Linked DNA regions of Homo sapiens. The protein of the gene in region 1 purifies or fractionates together with the protein of each later gene. This does not show direct contact. Each region holds a gene or a part of one and is shown on either strand. Other genes may lie near its edges.

Region 1 (3,500 bases):
TAATTACAAAGCATGAAAAATGTTGAAAAACCCTAGATGCTTTAAAAAGAATGTAATAGAAAATTTTATGTAGATTGATGGCATTAAGGGATTCTTCTCCTCTGAAAAAGAAACACTTAAGCCAAGACTTCATTCATTCAACAGAACTATTCAAACTTGATATGGGAAAGTTGAAGTTTAGGGAGAGAGGTATCAAGAATTACTTCCAAATTTCTGGCATGAGCAACTGGGTGGATAAAGGAGCCATTTATTAAGATATGGAAAACTGAAGGAAAAAGGTTTCAGGAGGAAGGCTATACACAGAATTGAAGAATTCATGTTTGATCCTGTTAAGTTTGAGACATCCAGGGAGATGTCAAGCAGGTAGATGTGTATACAGATCTGCTGGAATGGACCTGCAAATTTGGGAGTTGTTGGCATGGAGAGAACTTGCAGCATGAGAAGAGAAGATGACTCAGAGTAGAGTCCAGAGGAACTCTAAAGTTGAGAGATCAGGTAAAAAAGGGACCTGCAAAGGAAGCAGATAAAGAAGGCCTGGAGAGGTGGGAGGAAAGCTAGGAAAATGAGGTGTTATGGAAACCAGGAGAAGAGTTAACAAGAATGAAGTGAGCAACTGGCAGAATCTAAGAGATGGAGTAAGATGAGATTAGCAAAGTGGCCAGTGGTGACCTTAACAAAAATAGTGGTCACTATGATCTGGGGGTGGAAGTTGGTTTAAAATGATTAAAGGTCGAATGGCAAGTGAGGAAGTGAACCCTGTGTCTCGTCAACTCTGTGGAGAAATTTGGCTCTAAGGGGTAATAGAATGCTAGACCTGGGTTTTGTTTTGCTTTTTTTTTTTTTTTTTTTTAGCACGGAAAGATTCTACAGCCTGTCTGAATGCTGATTGGAAAGATCCAACAGACAGAGGGGATGGCCAGAGGGGAAAATGAGAGCTCTCAGAAGGCTGGAAGGGATAGGCTTAGTCCACCTGTGGCTGGATTGACTTTTGGGAGAAAGTGGGCTATTTTTTGTTTCAGTAATAGAAAAGAAAGAGGAGATAGATATTGATGAAAATTGGTTTGTGTATTTAGCAGTTAAGAACTTTCTGCCTGGCAACATCTCTTCCTATTAAGTACTGGGCAAGTCCAGGTATTGGGAGTGGGAAGGAAGGGAGGAAACGGGGTACCTAGGAGACGTAGAAGGTATTTTGAAGTGGCTTCTGGCATGATAAGCCAGCGTGCTTGCTAGAGAGTGTAGTAGTCATAGTAATACTTAACACTGGAGTGCTTACATTATACTGCTGAGCACTTTATATGAACTAGCTCACCTTGCCCACCAAGGCTCTACTTTAACAGGCACTACAGTGATGAAGAGCATAGACTTTGGGGCCGGAGTGGCCAGAGTGCTGGTTAAATGCCCACTACCACTTACTAGGGTGTGAGCTTGGTCAAGTTACTTAACATTGCAGAGCCCGTTTTCCCATCTCTAAAATAGAAATAGTGGTGGCACCTGCCTCCTGGGGTTGTTGTGACTGGGTTAACATGTTTGTACAGTACTCAGAACAATGCATGGCACATAGTAAAAATTTTAAGTACTAATTTAAGAAGAGAAGAGAAAAACATTGTATAAGTAGATCTAAGGTGTTAGGAGATGTAGTTATGTTGGGGGAAAAAAATCTCTCTGGCTATAATGATTCTGTGGAGGATCCTTTCCAGTCCTTAAAGGTGGTTAAACAGTTGAACTCTAACCTCCTGAAGAGCCTAATTTTATTCTTTGGAACTATAGAAGATGTTTGGCAGATTTTTTGCTCAGTCGTTTTTATCATCAGAAAGGCTAAAAGTAGGGACAACTTATTTCCTTGGGCTAGGGATTGAAAAACTTAGATTTTGATCCCAGTCACTGGGTGAACCCACATGCTTATTTCAACCTCTGTGCTGTCTCTCCCTCCATAAAGTAATGGGAAGGAAGATGGCTTCAAGGAAAGAGCCAGGGTCTGAGAGCAGTGATTGGAAACCTGGAAGAAGCCATTCACACCCCATGTGCTCCATTCATTCATCTCTAAAATGCCTGTCAATCAAAGTCAGGCAAATTGTGAGAAAATGAAACTGTATGTAGAAGTACTTCGAAAATAAAAGTGTTTTATGTTCACAGCATTATTATTAGAAATAATCTTTGCTACCAGCTCATCATAAATGCTTGGCAGATTAATGAGGTGATTTGATAATTGTAATGTTTTGAGTTTCTTTGGAAGACGTGTGTAACACAAATGCCAGGTGTTTCTGTTATGGGAGAACTTGAATAAGTCACAGAGGATCTAACTACATGCTTAGTACATCATGCTGAGTATTATAGAAAAACAAAAGAACTTTAAAACAAGGTTCTTGGCTTCTAAGAATATAGTTTTCACAGGGTGATAAAATATACACCTAGTATTATTCAGTACGACATGTGATTGAGTGCTAGAATACGTGATGCAGACAGAAAGTACTAGAAGAAGTTGTGGAGGGGGACTATATAGGTGGTAACTGCTTTTCTTTTCCTGAGGTAAATGTTTTCTGATGGCTTTGTCCATGCAGGATTCATTTTCTACTTCTATTTTCCCAGTGATTTCTAATGTTCATTGAGAGGTTACAAAATGGTTTATGATTATATATGTCCAACTTGACAACCAGAATCCATTTCTTAGTCTAAACCAAAAAAAAAAAGCTGGAAGCTGATGGGGATAAAAATAGAACCTTAAATATGATCAAGACCAAAATGTTTTTTAACATGCTGTCTCCTGAGGTCAGCATAGAAACATTCATAATGTTTTTATTCTAGTTCTTTTTCCTGACTTTTTTATTTAAAAAGGAAAAAATTTAATTGAGTGTACTCAGAACTTCCATAAATTTCTTTCACTGTCCCAGGTAAAATAGCTGAGACTATTGCAGATTTCTAAATGAAGAAATAGACCTTTAACATGTGACAGTGATCATAGTGCTACAACCTAGGATATAATTGATCCTCCCAATTTTAGCCCAGTCTCCATTCTCTCAAAGTACATGTAAGCTGCAACACCTGAGCTGTTTCTAACTCCCTTTGGTTCTGTAGTCACTAGTCCTGCACCTAATATTCTCCTCCTTCATTCCTATACTTTGTCAGTAAGATACTAGAAGCTGGAAGGGGGTTGATAATGGGATAGTGGTTACAAGAAAACCATAATGGAATTACCCTGGGAGGGAGCAGAGACTTAAAGTATGTCTTGGTTTTACCTGAATTTGTCTAGGCTTCCCTGAATAAAGGACTTTCTCATTTGTTCTCTAGCTAGGTTTGGGAATATTTTCTTGACCTTTATGCTTCAAATTAGCCTTGCAAATTGGCTCAAAAAATATCTTAGCCTTCAAAGATGTTCTTTTACTTTCAGAATTATGGATCATTCCCATGCTTACCCATGCCTGCAGTCCCTGTCATTAAGCAGTGAGAACACTAGACACATACTTGGCATAATTTAATAGAAAGATCATGGAAATCAGGGGGCA
Region 2 (3,500 bases), about 33 Mb from region 1:
AGCAGGAGTTCTCTGCGTGAGGGTCAGCATAGGCCTGTAAACCACCTGCTAAGTTGTTCAAAATTGTGCCTCAGGAGGGGACCTGGGTTTTCATCAGATTCTTAAAGGGATTCAGGACCCAGGAAAGTAGAGTTAATATTTGTTGAATAAATAAATCAGCAGATAAAGCACCATACTTGTAGAGGATGTGCACGGAGATGGCCGAACCTGAGGATGTAGAACAAAGCACACAGTCGGCTCTGGATGGTTCTAGACCTCCCAGAACACAGGTGAGAACCAGGTCCTCCACAACTGCTGTGTAACCACATCACCTGGATCAAAGAGGAAGGCTGGCAGGCACCCACCTCTACTGTGTGTGTGTGTGTGTGTGTGTGTGTGTGTGTGTTATGTGTGTGTGTATAACAGAGAAAGGAAGCCTACACATGTGTTACTAGAGAGTGTTTTCAAAAGGCCTGTATATTTAATATCCAATCCCAGCCAATTTGCAAAGCAGGTACTGAAATGAAACAAGGCACCAGGTGTGGTGGCTCACGCCTGTAATCCCAGCACTTTGGGAGGCTGAGGCAGGAGGATCACTTGAGCCCAGCCTGGGCAATATGGTGAATCCCTGCCTCTACAAAAAATGCAAAAAATTAGCCGGGTGTAGTGGTGTGCACCTGTAGTCCCAGCTACCTGGGAGGCTGAGATGGGAGGATCACCTGAGCCCAGGGAGGTTGAGGCTACAGTGAGCCAAGATCACGCCACTGCACTCCAGCCTGGGCAACAGAGCGAGACCCTGTCTCTAAATTAATTAATTAAAATGAAACAAGGCTTTCATCATGCTTGTTGCGAACCCTCCCAACAAACCACGCAAATCTGGAGAATGTGTCCTAACCAGAGATCCAAGGAGAGGAGGGCTGAGAGGAGACCCCGGAACAGAGGGAAGACCCTTCAGCAGCCTCCTCCACAGGGGCCACACTCTCTCCCACTAAAAAGCAGGCAGGGGGCTTTCAGTCACCGGAGGCCCAGCTGACACCAGCACACCAGAGACATGAAAGATAACGGGGGTATAAATTTAATCTACATACCGACAGTGATTCATGCATGAGGGTGGCAAGTGCACAAGAAAAATGAAAAATAAGTGGACTTCCCCACCAGCGTTTTTTAGCAATTGAAGCAATTTTCCTGATTGTGGGATTTATACTGAAGGGAAGTGGAAGTGGCTCCTCATTACCTTTTCCCCTGGAGCACAGCCAGCGGGACCCTTGCCGAGGGAGCCGCATGCAGCACCTCCTTGGCCCACAAGGCTCCCCCGGCCCAGCCCAGCCCTGCAGATCACCCTCCACCCCATCTCCAGTCAGAGCCAGTGTATCTAGAATACAGGGCATCCTACAGGGGTGTGTCTGTGATGGAGACACTGTCCCCATTCCCAGATCTTAGAATAGCCAGAGTCACAGGTGAGAAGGCCAAAGCCTGGCAGGTCACATGACTTGCCCTGCGACAGGCAATAATGAGACACACGGTCATGCCTAGAATTCCCTGGCCCCACACGAGGTAAAACTGTGAACCCGGCTGCTACACAGAGAACCAGAAGTCTAACCAACTGGACCAAATATGAAGGACGCTGGGGTAAAGAGGGAAAGGCTGGACTCCAGCCAAGGAAGAGGGCTCCCAAGGGCTTTTCCAAGCAGCACCCCTTAACACCGATCACCGGGCACCCATGCAGGGGCACCAAGGGCACTGGCCTCACCCTTCAGAAAGATAAGCCTGCTGCCCAGTCCTGCTAGCCAGGCCTCTGGGGACAACCAGTCCCCCCAGGAGAGCAGCTGGAGCTGATCCAAAACCACAGAGAAAATGCAAGGAAGACTTGCTAATGGCTCATATTATTTTCATCCTCTAACCAACACCACTGGAAATTGTCTTATCCCTGCCCAGCACATAGTAGGCAAGCCACAAAGACCCAATGAATGAATGAATGAATGAACGAATGAGCAAACGAATGAGTGAACGAACGAACTGCTTCTTAAAACATTTGCCTGAGTAGTCAGGGGAGGCTTGGCTCTCCATAATGGCAGCTCTTTTCTTTTCTTTTTTTTTTTTTTTCAAGTTTGGTATTAACTTTGTTCTATTTTTGGTCTAACTTTAAGTACCTAAAGATTTATTTCCACAGGCCTCAGAAAATGGGTAGAAATCACAGGACAATCCCTCTTCCCACCAAAAAAAGTTGCATACTTTGGTAAGTGTTTATCCTAGAGGGAAAAAGCTGAAATTTACATTAGCAGTGCTGTGCAAGATTCTGACATAAATCACGACCTCAAACCAGCCTGCAGTGGAGGTTCTAGTCTTCTGTTCAGGCACTTGGACAGAAGCCATAGCTGATGAGCATGACAGGGAAAAGGAGGCAGTAAAGACAGGTGACAGGCACCTTGTAGGGAAGGAGGATTCAGGAATGCCAGGCTCCTTGGAATGGTGTGCTGTTTTTCCTTTTTTTTTTTTTTTTTTTCCTTTCAAAGTCATCTCTGTAGGAAGGTGCTGGGCAGCGATCCCAGAGAAAGAAAGGTCCAAGACTCCTTTAACTGTCCTGGATGAAGGGCAGTGCTACAGCAGCTAGTACCGGAGACTCTCCTATCTCATGGTTGAGGCAGACCCAGGATAGAATAGAGAATAAAAGGAATGCTTATAGGAAACCATTTTGCATGGAATGCTAGATGGCCAAGCCTCAGCCTTTGGTCCAGTGCAACCCTTGCCTCACTTGTCAACAGTGAAAAATTAGTTTGGTTAGAGGAACCATCTGGAAACACACCAGCTTCTGCTAGCTTCATGTTCATTGCTAGAAAAAGATTAACCAGTGTGAACATTCTGATCTGTTAATTCCTGGGATTGTTTTCTTCCCGAAGGACTGTTTGTTGGTAGGATAACCCCCAAAAGCTCAAAGCTAAAATGCATCATCAGTCCTGGTTGGCAGTTCCTTAAGAATGGACTGGCGGCGTGAGCGAGCTGATATGGACAAGCTGCCCCTTCCTGCAGAACATCAACTGACCTACTATCTCACCCCAAATCTCTGCCTGAGGTATATTTCAGTGAAGGCAGTTAGTTGTGCTTCTCAGAGCAGAGAAGCAGTTTTAAGCTCTTTTCTTTAGGGGTGAGGGGATCTCACTCGGTTGCCCAGGCTGGAGTGCAGTGCCACAATCATAGCTCACTGCACTCGAACTCTCAGTCTTCCCACCTCGGCCTCCTGAGCAGCTAGGATCACAGGCACATGCCACCATGCCCAGCTCATTTTTTAAGACATGTTTTGTAGTGATTGGGTCCTACTATGTTGCCGAGGCTGGCCTTGAATTCCTGGTCTCAAGTGATCCTCCCACCTTGGCCCCCAAAGCACTGGAATTACAGGTGTGAGCCATCCCCTTTGCCTCTGCTGTCATTAGCTTCCCCTCTGCTGGCTCCTTCCATCCATGTACAGGCATGCTATGATCCCTGCCTGCCTCCCTTCTCTACCGCCCACTCCCCGCACCCTTCAG

What was found.
Region 2: the proteins of BCL9 (region 1) and LHX4 purify together in Homo sapiens (affinity purification with mass spectrometry, with the first as the bait; one large-scale study listed by BioGRID). This does not show direct contact.

Annotation. Positions count from the first base shown.
Region 1 is NC_000001.11:147,607,501-147,611,000, forward strand, and holds part of BCL9 (B-cell CLL/lymphoma 9 protein), read left to right. Parts: intron 1-3,500. UniProt on the Homo sapiens protein: Involved in signal transduction through the Wnt pathway. Promotes beta-catenin's transcriptional activity.
Region 2 is NC_000001.11:180,261,264-180,264,763, reverse strand, and holds part of LHX4 (LIM/homeobox protein Lhx4), read right to left. Parts: intron 1-3,500. UniProt on the Homo sapiens protein: May play a critical role in the development of respiratory control mechanisms and in the normal growth and maturation of the lung. Binds preferentially to methylated DNA.